Homo sapiens: one gene and its partners. The protein of the gene in region 1 purifies or fractionates together with the protein of each later gene. This does not show direct contact. Each region holds a gene or a part of one and is shown in the gene's direction. Other genes may lie near its edges.

What was found.
Region 2: the proteins of SLC25A15 (region 1) and EDEM2 purify together in Homo sapiens (co-immunoprecipitation; one large-scale study listed by IntAct). This does not show direct contact.
Region 3: the proteins of SLC25A15 (region 1) and SDF4 purify together in Homo sapiens (co-immunoprecipitation; one large-scale study listed by IntAct). This does not show direct contact.

The regions. Positions count from the first base shown.
Region 1 is NC_000013.11:40,792,567-40,796,213, forward strand, and holds part of SLC25A15 (mitochondrial ornithine transporter 1), read left to right. Parts: intron 1-591; 5' UTR 592-660; coding exon 661-715; intron 716-3,647.
Region 2 is NC_000020.11:35,116,311-35,119,957, reverse strand, and holds part of EDEM2 (ER degradation-enhancing alpha-mannosidase-like protein 2 isoform 1 precursor), read left to right. Parts: intron 1-1,238; coding exon 1,239-1,360; intron 1,361-2,750; exon of another isoform or gene 2,751-2,822; intron 2,823-3,647. Other genes in the region: MMP24-AS1-EDEM2 (ER degradation-enhancing alpha-mannosidase-like protein 2), read left to right, coding at 1,239-1,360. UniProt on the Homo sapiens protein: Involved in the endoplasmic reticulum-associated degradation (ERAD) pathway that targets misfolded glycoproteins for degradation in an N-glycan-dependent manner.
Region 3 is NC_000001.11:1,221,989-1,225,635, reverse strand, and holds part of SDF4 (45 kDa calcium-binding protein isoform 2 precursor), read left to right. Parts: intron 1-1,667; coding exon 1,668-1,804; intron 1,805-2,278; coding exon 2,279-2,392; intron 2,393-3,647. UniProt on the Homo sapiens protein: May regulate calcium-dependent activities in the endoplasmic reticulum lumen or post-ER compartment. Isoform 5 may be involved in the exocytosis of zymogens by pancreatic acini.

The DNA.
Region 1 (3,647 bases):
TGTGGCTATTTGTGACTGTGTTTGTTTTATAATATTTTTATTATTCACCTTGTACAGATGAGGACTCCCAGCTGTAGAGGCTGAAGGAGCCACACTGCAGGTAGAGCAGGCATTCACCAAGGCGTGTGTGATCCCAGGGTGCAGCTCCCACCCTTGGCTGCCTGGGTGCTCTTTTCCAGACCTACTGTCTTGTGAGATCCCCTTAGGCACCCAGCACAGGCTGCTGTCTGAATTTAGAACTGAGCCTGTTCAATTGATGGCTCAACATAGGCCTCTAAAAAAACAAGTCTGATGCGGTTTGGTACACCTGTGGTTGGCTTACTTATTTGGTGTTCGTTTTTTCAGTTTTCAGAAAGGTCAGTTGAAGTGCTGCTGGTGGCTGTAGCATTGATACACAGGGGAGGTTTTTGATCTGTGAGCTTTCTAGGAGGCAGTTGCTAAGCTGCACTGATACCTTGAGCCCCTTTCCTTTGGAACAGTGTGGACCCCAGGTCATGGCTCCCAGAAGTTTAGGTTCTGTAATTTGGCTGCAGGCCTAGAGAACAGGATGCTGCAGACTTGGACTAATGGTGAACTCTTGCCTCCCCCCAGGGATATGTGGTGCCTGTCATAAGCTCCAGAGAGCTGCCTTCCACAAGACCAGCAGAAGAGTGGGCAAACATGAAATCCAATCCTGCTATCCAGGCTGCCATTGACCTCACAGCGGGGGCTGCAGGTACAGTCATGTGCCTCATCACCATGTTTCTGTCGTTGATGGATGGTGTATCTGATGGTGGTCCCATGAGATTATACTACCATATTTTTACTGTACCTTTTCTGTGTTTAGATACATTTAGATACATAAATACCACTGTGTTATAGTTGCCTGCAACATCCAGTACAGTAACATCCTGTACAGGTGTATAGCCTAGGAGCAATAGGCCATACCGAATAGCCTAGGTGTGGAGTAGGCTACGCCATCTAGGGTCAGGTGTGTATGCTCTATGATAGCACAATGACGAAATTGTGTAATGACATGTATTTCAGAACATGTCCCAGTCATTAAGCAATGCCTAACTATAATCCCAGAGAAAACCCAGTTCTCTCTATTCCTCAACTACTCTCTAAATGAGATCAAATGAAAGTGGTATGAAAATACTACCTTTCTCCCTCCAGTACTTTACCTTTGGGATTAATCCATTTGATGGAAGTTTAGTATTGTTCAGAGAGTAGCAGAAGCTAGAGGAGTGTCCGTTATTGTTAACACCTTGTCAGTCAGGGTGATGGGTGGAAGGTGCCCAGTACAGCTGGAAAACAGCTCAGAGGTGAAGCCACGTGTCCATTGTCACCTGGCTGGGATATGCAGGTGATGTGGTTCTTCACTTCAAGCCTGGCAGTCTTCAGAGCCCTTGTTGTGCAAAAATAACACCATAGCATCTCCTGGGAAACACCACTTACTGTCCCTGCTAGTGTTGGGAAAGAAAGGAGGACACTCTTAGAAATGTCTTTAAAAGGCTGGGCGCAGTGGCTCACGCCTGTAATCCCAGCACTTTAGGAGGCCAAGGCGGGCAGATCACCTGAGGTGAGGAGTTCAAGACCAGCTTGACCAACATGGAGAAACCCCGTCTCTTCTAAAAATACAAAATTATCCAGGCGTGGTGGTGCATGCCTGTAATCTTAGCTACTTGGGAGGCTGAGGCAGGAGAATCGCTTGAACCCCGGAGGCGGAGGTTGTGGTGAGCCAAGATCGCGCCATTGCACTCCAGCCTGGGCAACAACAGTGAAACTCTGTCTCAAAAAAAAAAAAAAAAGACATGTCTCTGAAAATGAGACTGATAATGGACTGTGTCTTAGAGCCGTGAAAGTTGTAGGATTTGCTGGGAATGTCAGCTAACCTGAGCCTAGGGGCCTGAGCCCAAGAGCCTGAGGCTCCCCCAGCACAGGGAGGTGCTACCTGTGATAAGGGGTAGTGCTGGCACCATGCAGGCTACTCCTTAGAAAGATCAGCTTGAACATGCAGGAAGAGCAGGACCCTCAGGCTGGGAAACAGGGCGGAATGGGAAGTGCATGGTGGTAATTTGGTTCTCCAGAGTCCAGAAGTAGGAGGAGTGGCTGGAATACTGATTGCCCAAAGGAAAACCCTGGACTACCCTGGGCTCCCGCAGGATTCTCATAGTAGTTGCAGCTCCCTGGAGTGGGGAGGCCAGCGGGGGTGTTGCCCAGTGCTGTCCTTATCCAGCACACCCCCCACCCCCACCACCAGCAGATGAGTATGGTCATGAATATGGTCACCTCATCAGTCATTTGCTCAATTGTGAAAAAGAAATTGTTCAGAGAAGAGCAAAGTGTTTTTCCATGAGCCAAAGGTCAGCCAGGGTATGCTAATGAGGAAGACTGGAGAGAGCGCGTCACCGTCACCGAGCCTAATGAGGAGCACTGGGCAAGGGCACTTCTCCCAGGGCAGAACCCACAAGGAGCGTCCCAGCCCCAGATGCCCAGGGAACGGAAGGCCAGTGGGGGTCTGCCCAGTAGTCTCTTGCCCACTGCGTGCCTTTAGGCTACAGCCTCCCAAGCCCCTTTCCCCCTCCCCTCCCCCATGCCACACTGGGGAGGACGCTGACCCTGAGAATGGTGCAAACATCTGCCTGCCCCAGGCCGCCTCTCACCAGCGAGTGAATGCTCTTGGGCTCAGTTCTGTTTCTGCAGAAGGAGGGTGTTTAGCCACATATAGTCTCAGCTTTTGACATTTTATGTCTTTCAGTCAATCTGTCAAAGATCTAGAACCTATGGTGATAGAATTTAAAAGTTTACCTTTTCCTATTTATGTGCATACAGGTATTTGGGTACCACATTTATAATTTACAAGTTAGTTTGAAAGATAGAAATTGCAACAGTATGGTTGGGAGCCTGGTATGTAAGGCATTTGCTGGTGGGCATGTTTTGAACATGTATTGATCCCTTATGTATACTGACACACTGTCCCCATCACTGTTGGACAGGTATTTCCCCCTGTGCTGGCGACACAGGGACGCCCCTCACCGAGGTAGAGATGCTGTGGGTAGTCTTAACTTCTGAGGACAACGAAGCCCATTCCTGGGGGGACAGGATAGGGAGGGGGAGCGAGACATGGTCTATAGGTTGGGGGCTGGGCAGAGGAGGTGCCTAGCAGTGACACAGAAACCTCTGTTCTGCTGTGAGGCCTATGGAATGCAAATGGAACCCACTTTTGAGGATCTTGGAGTCTTGGAGTGCTGGAGCTAGAGAGACCTTTAGACATTGTTGGCTCCAATGCTCGTTGGATATGTAGAAAAAGGCCCACAGAGGAGCAGTAGATTTGTTCAAGGTTACACAGCAAGATGGTGTGAAGACAGGGCAGGACTGTGATCCCTGGGTCCCTTGTCTGGTGTCGTTGCTGTCTCTGCTTTAGTACTCCGTAATGCATCTGCAGCACACTGGAGGGGAGGGTTAGTTTGGAGCCTTTGGGCCCTGCCTTTCTGGATGTGGAACTTGCTGGGCTTTGGGAATTTTCTGCCAGCCATTGATAGGAGCAGAGGACCTGTTGTGTTTTGTGGCAGAGGTCACCCACGGAAGCGATCCATCTGTAAGCACAGAGCCAGCTGCAGCCCGAGGTGATGTGGATGGAGCTTAAATGTGGTGTTGTGTGTGTC
Region 2 (3,647 bases), on another chromosome or scaffold:
AGAAAGGAGACAGGGGTTCTTCTGTCTCTTAGAAAAGATGGATGAAGTAGAAAAACATACTGAGCTGAGGCCACCCTTGAAGTCAACTCTACAACAGTTCTTCAGGTATTTGAAAGCAATAAACACATTTTTTTTGGATTTCCTTATCTCTAGAATAAATATTCTCATCTGGACCCACTCCTGTTGGCTAATATTCATCTTAAGGTAGAGCTCATGTCTTAACATCAAGTTCCAGTTGTGGCATAGAATTGGGCAAGACAAAACATCACTTTTTCTGGCCACAGTGAACTGATGACTACGTCTTTGTTAGATTGACGGTTTGGTGGTTTATTTTATTTTATTTTTTTAATTTTTATTTTTTGAGATAAGGTCTCACTCTTGTCATCCAGGCTGGAGTGCCGCAGTGGCTTAATCATGGCTCACTGCAGCCTCAAACTCCTGGGCTCAAGTGATCCTCCTACCTCAGCCTCCTGAGTAGCTAGGACTACAGGTGCATGCCACACCCAGCTAATCATTTTTAATTTTTGTAGAGACAAGATCTCGCCATGTTGCCCAGGCTGGTCTCAAACTCCTGGGTTCAAACGATCCTCTCACCTTGGCCTCCCAAAGTGCTGGGATTACAGGCATGAGCCACCCACCATGCCTGGCCTGCTCTTGGATATCTCAGCCTTTTCTTTTGGTCCATCCTATCTTAGAACGAGCCTTATGATGCCAAGCTCTTACTCTTCTTTTGAGTTTTAGAATTAGGTTAGACTCTGAGTGACAGGAAAAAAAATAGTAGCTTAATTAGGATAGAAATGTATTTCTCTCTCATGTTCTGGGCTTATATGGCTCGCCATGGTGTCCTTAATCCCACCTAGCTGTTAGAATAGTTAGTGTTGGCAGCCAGGCAGCCTGTGCTTAGCTAAAGTTAGGAATCCTGCTACTAAGGAGGAAGCGGGGAACAGATATTGGGAATTAGGCAACAACCTCCGCCACCTTCTCTATGCCAGAACCTGGCCACCTTTCTCTCCCTTGTGGTGGAAGTCACTGGTCAGCCTTAATGCTGGTCTCCACTGAGCTTCAAGCTTTGGGTATACTGGCTCTGAAACTCAGCACTGGGTGAGGTATCCTGTGTTCCTGCTAGTTGGGGCCTTATGGACAAGATATGGAGGGGAGTAGTCCCTCACGGCCCTAAGAGGCCCCAGGCCATCTCTGTGCAGCCACTGAGTGAGGAGGGTCTGCTTTGGACTTTGCAGAACTTATTGAAAGCGCAATGTACCTCTACCGTGCCACGGGGGATCCCACCCTCCTAGAACTCGGAAGAGATGCTGTGGAATCCATTGAAAAAATCAGCAAGGTGGAGTGCGGATTTGCAACAGTAAGTGTTTGCATGGCCCCAAGAACTGGGAAGAGTCTCCCCTTGCTGCTAAAAAGCCTCTTTAAGGGTAGAGCTTTGGGAGTTCTGACATATCAGCACTAGAAGGGACCTTGGAGATATACATAATGCTCATATTTTACAGATGGGGAGACCAAAGAACAGAGAAGCTAAGTGCCTTGCTAAAGATCTCACAGCTAGTAGAGGTAGAGCTAGAATTAGTTCCTTGGGATCTTGACCCCGGCCCTTGGCATTCCTCCCACAGTGGAGATCTTTGATCTGTTTGAATAGGTGACTTTGAAAAGGTGAGTTTAGCGAAAAGTTTTGTGAGACACTAAAATAGATTTTAAGGGGAATCCAGAGTCCCATAGCCCTATATTCAAACCTGGGACTCCTTAACAAAGCAGTCCTGCTTAGTCTCACAGATATTTCTTGAATGTCTTTCACATGCCAGGCACTCTGCTAGGCCCAAGGGTTACAGCAGTGGCCTTGCTCTCATGGAGCTTACATTTTAATGAGAAAAAAACCATGAATGTGTATCTGGTAGACAGAAGGCCAGTGTGGCTGGAGCGGAGCAAGCAAGGAGAAAAGTGGGAAGAGATAAGGTCCCAGAGGTAGGCAGGGGCTAGATCATGTAGGGTTTTGTGTAAGCCACAGGAAAGAGTTTGGGTTTTTTTTTCTACTTGGAATGTGAACCCTTGGTAGGATTTACAGCAGAGCAGTGACATGATCTGATTTGTATTTTAGAAAGATCGCTTTGGCTGCTTTGTGAAGAATAGATTGAAAGGGTCAAAGGTGAGAGCCATCTCACATCCATGCAGGAACCAAGCAGGCAAGATATAAATATGAAAGTAGAAGAAAATAGTCTGGAAGAAAATCCCCTGAAAAGCCTACAGTGTTGGGGTATGGAATTCAAAACAACAACAAAACACTTATTTTGCAAAAGTTTGTAATGTGATTATATTCTATAAGTAAAATATAGATATGTGTAGGGGAAGAGAGAAGACCTACATGTGGAAGGGAAAAAATAAACCCCTGATATGATTTGGTTTCTAATATGCTGTATTGTGTGAAAAACCAAAATGATAAGCCCACTGGGGCCTTCCTAGGAATGCTGGGCTCATTTCCATGAACATGAAGCCCTTTGGAGGTCTTCCATGGTGAATGATGGGAACAGGGGTCTGACCTTTCTCAAACAGGGCAAGGAAATAATCATCTTGATACATCAAGACCATATTTGAGTCATATTTTTAAATGTAAGATAGAGTCCACTGAGAATGTTTTGTTTAGAAGTATTACTAATTCTGAGAAGCTAAAATAAATGTTTGTAGCAAGTAATCTTAGTCATCCATGCCTGAAAACTCAGTTGAAATTCTCTAAATAAGACTCCTTACTAAAACAATGTCAATAGTTTTCATCAACAGCAGTTGAACCTAGTAAGTGTCGATACTTTGGGTCTGAGTGGAGAAAAAAAGACCCCTTATTAGTTGCTTACAAAAACTTGGTAATTGGCCAAGCGCAGTGGCTCAGGCTTGTAATCCCGGCACTTTGGGAGGCCAAGGCAGGCGGATCACGAGGTCAGGAGTTCAAGACCAGCCTGACCAACATGGTGAAACCCTGTCTCTACTAAAAATACAAAAAAAATTACCTGGGTGTGGTGGCATGTGCCTGTAGTCCCAGCTACTCTGGAGGCTGAGGCAGGAGAATTGCTTGAACCCGGGAGGCAGAGGTTGCAGTGAGCCGAGACCATGCCATTGCACTCCAGCCTGGGCAACAGAGTGAAACTCCATCTCTAAAAAAAAAAAAACTTGGTAATCATCTGAATGCCCTTCCAAGGAGGATTAGCCAAGTAAATGGTGATCCATTTTCACGATGGAATACTCTGCCATCATTAAAAGGGACGATTAGCTCTATGTTTATAGTCACAAAAAGTTGGGATAAAGGGGATAGGAGATTGTCATGTCATAGAGCAAGGTTAGCGGAGACCTTTCTGGTGAGGAAGCATTTGAGCAGAGACCTGAAGGAAGGGAGGGAACAAGCTATGAGAAAAACTGGAGGCGGAGTGCTCCAGGCTGAAAGAACCACAGATGCAAAGAGCCCGAAGCAGGAGGGTGCTGTGCTAGCTCAGGACAGAAAGGCAGCAGCTGGAGCTCTTAGAGTGGTAAGAGGTGAGGGCAGGAAGGGAGCAGGGGCCAGGTCATGACTTGCATTTTTATCCTGCATGAAATGGAGGGCTCACAGAAAGTTGTGAGTAGAGAATTGACAGGAAGACTTATGTTATACAGATACT
Region 3 (3,647 bases), on another chromosome or scaffold:
AGGTGCCCCACCTGCCACATGGCCACCCGGGTGGCCCCGTCCCCAGCCGGTGTGTTTTGGGGACTGTGGAGCTGAGGGTGCCTCCCAGGCCCGTCCACCTCTGGGCTGCTGCGGCTGCTGAGGGAGGGGCGCGTGTGAGCGGCAGCCTGGCCTTCTTCCATGAGGATCTCTGCCCAGTGCTTCTGAGCCGTGCCTGCGGTGTGTGCACCCTCGAAGCTTGCCTGGCCCAGGTCCCAGAGGCCACACCTGCCTGACGAGGGCCTGCTTGCCACCTCATAACGTGGCCGCGGCTGCCCCTGAGCGGAGCATAGAGGCAAGGGGCCAGGGCACCCTACTCTCGGGGATGCCTCCGGCAAACGCACCAGCCGGGGTCTCAAGACCTCGCACCTCTGGAAGCCCTGCCTCCCAGTGCTGTTGCCCTGGGGGTTAAGTTTCCAACAGGTGAGCTCAGGACACGGGCGGCTGCAGCAGGGGTAGGAGCCTGTGGCTTCCACAAAGACATAATGGTGAAGCCGAGCTCTGAAGCTGGGACGGGAGTGACCTGTCCTGGGGCCTGTGGCCTCCTGACCTGGCCTGCGCTGGCCCCGTGTCCCCAGTCTGTGTCCCTATCCCCCAAGTCTGTGGTCTCTTCCATCCTTGCACACAATGTTAAGTCCCCACACGGTCTTCTTCCTAAATCTCACAACTTAAATTTATATGAAGGATTTTGTTTTGTCTTGTTTTGAGTCAGGGTCTCGGTATGCCGCCCAGGCTGGAGTGCAGTGGTGTGATCACAGTTCACTGCAACCTTCGCATTCCAGGTTCGGGAGGCCTCCCACCTCAGCCTCTTGAGTAGCTGAAACCACAGGTGCACGCCACCGCGCCTGGCGAATTTTCGTAATTGTTTTTGTAGAGGTGGGGTCTCCCTATGTTGCCCAAGCTGGTCTTGAACTTCTGGGCTTAAGTGATCCACCTGTCTTAGCCTCCCAAAGGGCTGGGATTATAGGTGTGGCCACTGCGTCCTGCCTATATGAAGGTTTTTGTGTAGCCATACCTGAAGCATCGAAAATAAAACATGGGCCGGGCCCAGTGGCCACACCTGTAATCCTAGCACGTTGGGAGGCTGAGGTGGGTGGATCATTTGAGGTCAGGAGTTTGAGACTAGCCTGCCCAACATGGTGAAACCGTATTTCTGTTAAAAATACAAAAATTAGCCAGGCGTGGTGGTGCACCCCTGTAATCCCAGCTACTCGGGAGGCTGAGGCAGTAGAATCGCTTGAACCCGGGAGGCGGAGGTTGCAGTGAGCAAAGATTGCGCCACCACACTCCAGCCTGGGTGACAGAGTGAGACTCCATCTCAAAAAATAAAATAAAACGTGAAGAGTGTGACTTTTGGAAGCTGTGGTTGGAGAGTGGGGTCTGGTGGTGATTCTGTGTGACAGAGGGGGAGGGTCCATGTGTTTCCCCGGGGAGGGGACCGTGGCATCCACCTTCCCCAGTGTCTCTGGCGTGGCCCGGCACCCCACAAGCCCCACGTCCCGGACGCTTTTCGCGTTGCCTGGTGGAGCCTGTCGCTGTTGGTGGCAGGTTCACGCAGCCATGGAGTCCTGGGCCGGCGGCATCCGTCTGGCTGTTCGGGGTCCTGGGGGCCCAGTCTGACGGCCACCTGCCCATTTGCTGTCTTGCAGGGTGGATGTGAACACTGACCGGAAGATCAGTGCCAAGGAGATGCAGCGCTGGATCATGGAGAAGACGGCCGAGCACTTCCAGGAGGCCATGGAGGAGAGCAAGACACACTTCCGCGCCGTGGACCCTGACGGGGACGGTACTGTGGCTGGGCCGGGGTGGGTGGGGCGGTGGGCGGGGCGGGCAGGGCCATGGGCCTTGCCTGGTGCCTGGAGGGCAGACAGGCCCTGTCTGAGGGACGGGCGGTGGGGAAGTGTCAGCCGGAGACCCCGAGGTGTGGTGGGGTGCACGGAAGCTGGGTTCATGATGCCAGAATCCTGGTGACAGAGGTGTGTGTGCCAAGCACTGGGCGTGGCCCATGGAGGGCGCCTCTTATGTCTTCGGGGCCTTCATCTGGTGGTGTCTATGCCTCTTGGTGGCCCCGAGGCACAGACGTTGCCGGCTGGCCTCACAGGTGAGGAAACGGGTGTGGGGTGCTGGCCGGGGCCCTGGGGCTCCAGACGCTGGCATCCTGCCGCTTCCAGCCTGGGCAGCAGAGCAAGACCCCATCTCAGTTGAGAAGGAAGTTCAGCTCAGTATCAGAGGCCCTGACAGGTGTGATCTGCTCTTCCAGGTCACGTGTCTTGGGACGAGTATAAGGTGAAGTTTTTGGCGAGTAAAGGCCATAGCGAGAAGGAGGTTGCCGACGCCATCAGGCTCAACGAGGAACTCAAAGTGGATGAGGAAAGTGAGTGCTCAGCCAGGCTCCCGCCACCGGTCTCAGGCATCCTGTGTGTGCGCGCGTGTGTTGTGTGTACATGAGTGTGCCGTGTGTGTCGTGTATGAGTGTGCCGTGCGTGTGCTCGTGAGTACGTGTGTGCGTGCCGTGTGTACGAGTGTGCTGTGCGCGTGCTCGTGAGTACGTGTGTGCATGTTGTGTGTACGTGTGCTGTGTGTGTGCTCGTGAGTACATGTGTATGCGTGTCGTGTGTACGAGTGCACTGTGCATGTGCTTGTACGTGTGTGCGTGTCGTGTGTACGAGTGCGCTGTGCGTGTGCTTGTGAGTACATCCAGGTAGCTGTTCATGTAGGCTCGTGAGTACATGCAGGTGAGTGCGCCCTCACACCCGCTGTGTGCACACGTGTTCGTCTTAACAGCATGGCCCAACCTGGTTGGTGGTGGCTGTCAGGAGGGAAGTGGGTGAAGCCGTTGCTGACCTAGGCGCCGCCCAGGAGTCCGGTGGGGAGCGTGTGAGCTGTGCCTGGGCAGCTTTCAGCTCTGCTGGTCACGGCACCTTCACGGCCGTTACTCAGTTAGGTCCTGCAGAGAATCTGAGGCTGTGAGTCTGGGTTGGGGCCTGCCCCGTACTCTGAAGGCCACGTGAGGCAGAGTTTCCTGGGGAGAGGGCACAGCCTGTGCCTGAGGGCCTGGCCCTGAGGCCTGGGTCTGCTGGAGACATCTGTGTGGCCGTCAGGTGGTCACCAGAGAGCGGTCAGGTCCCAGGGAGAGGCTCTTCCTTGGGTCTGGGGTGTGGCCGTTGGCCAGCAGGGCAGCCTCAGCCCTGGGCGGGTCCAAGCTGGTGCCTCTGCGTGAAGAGGGTGGGGCCGGGTGGGGCCCGGCACCCGGGCTAAGGCCAGGTGAGGGGAGAGCCGGGCCACCCTGCACGGGGCCAGGTCTGGGAGAGCCGTCCAGGCAGAAGCCCCTGCTGGCCCAGTTGTGAGGCACAGCTGAGCGGGTACCGTGGCGTTGCTGCCACCCTGGGGCTCCGTGTGCCCTTCCCGGTCATGCCCGTGGTCTGGTTTGGGGCTTTGAGGAGAACGTGCAGAGTCGCCTGCTCCGTCGCTGCCCGGCATCCTGGGGTGGGTTCTCTGCTGCCCTGCAGGGCGCCCGTGTCGCCCACGGGACTGGTCACGTGATACGGGGCTGCTCCTGGCAGGCTGGGTGTATCTTACACCTTTATTTTTTGTGCCTGCTTAACTTATCAGTAACACACATTTCCTCA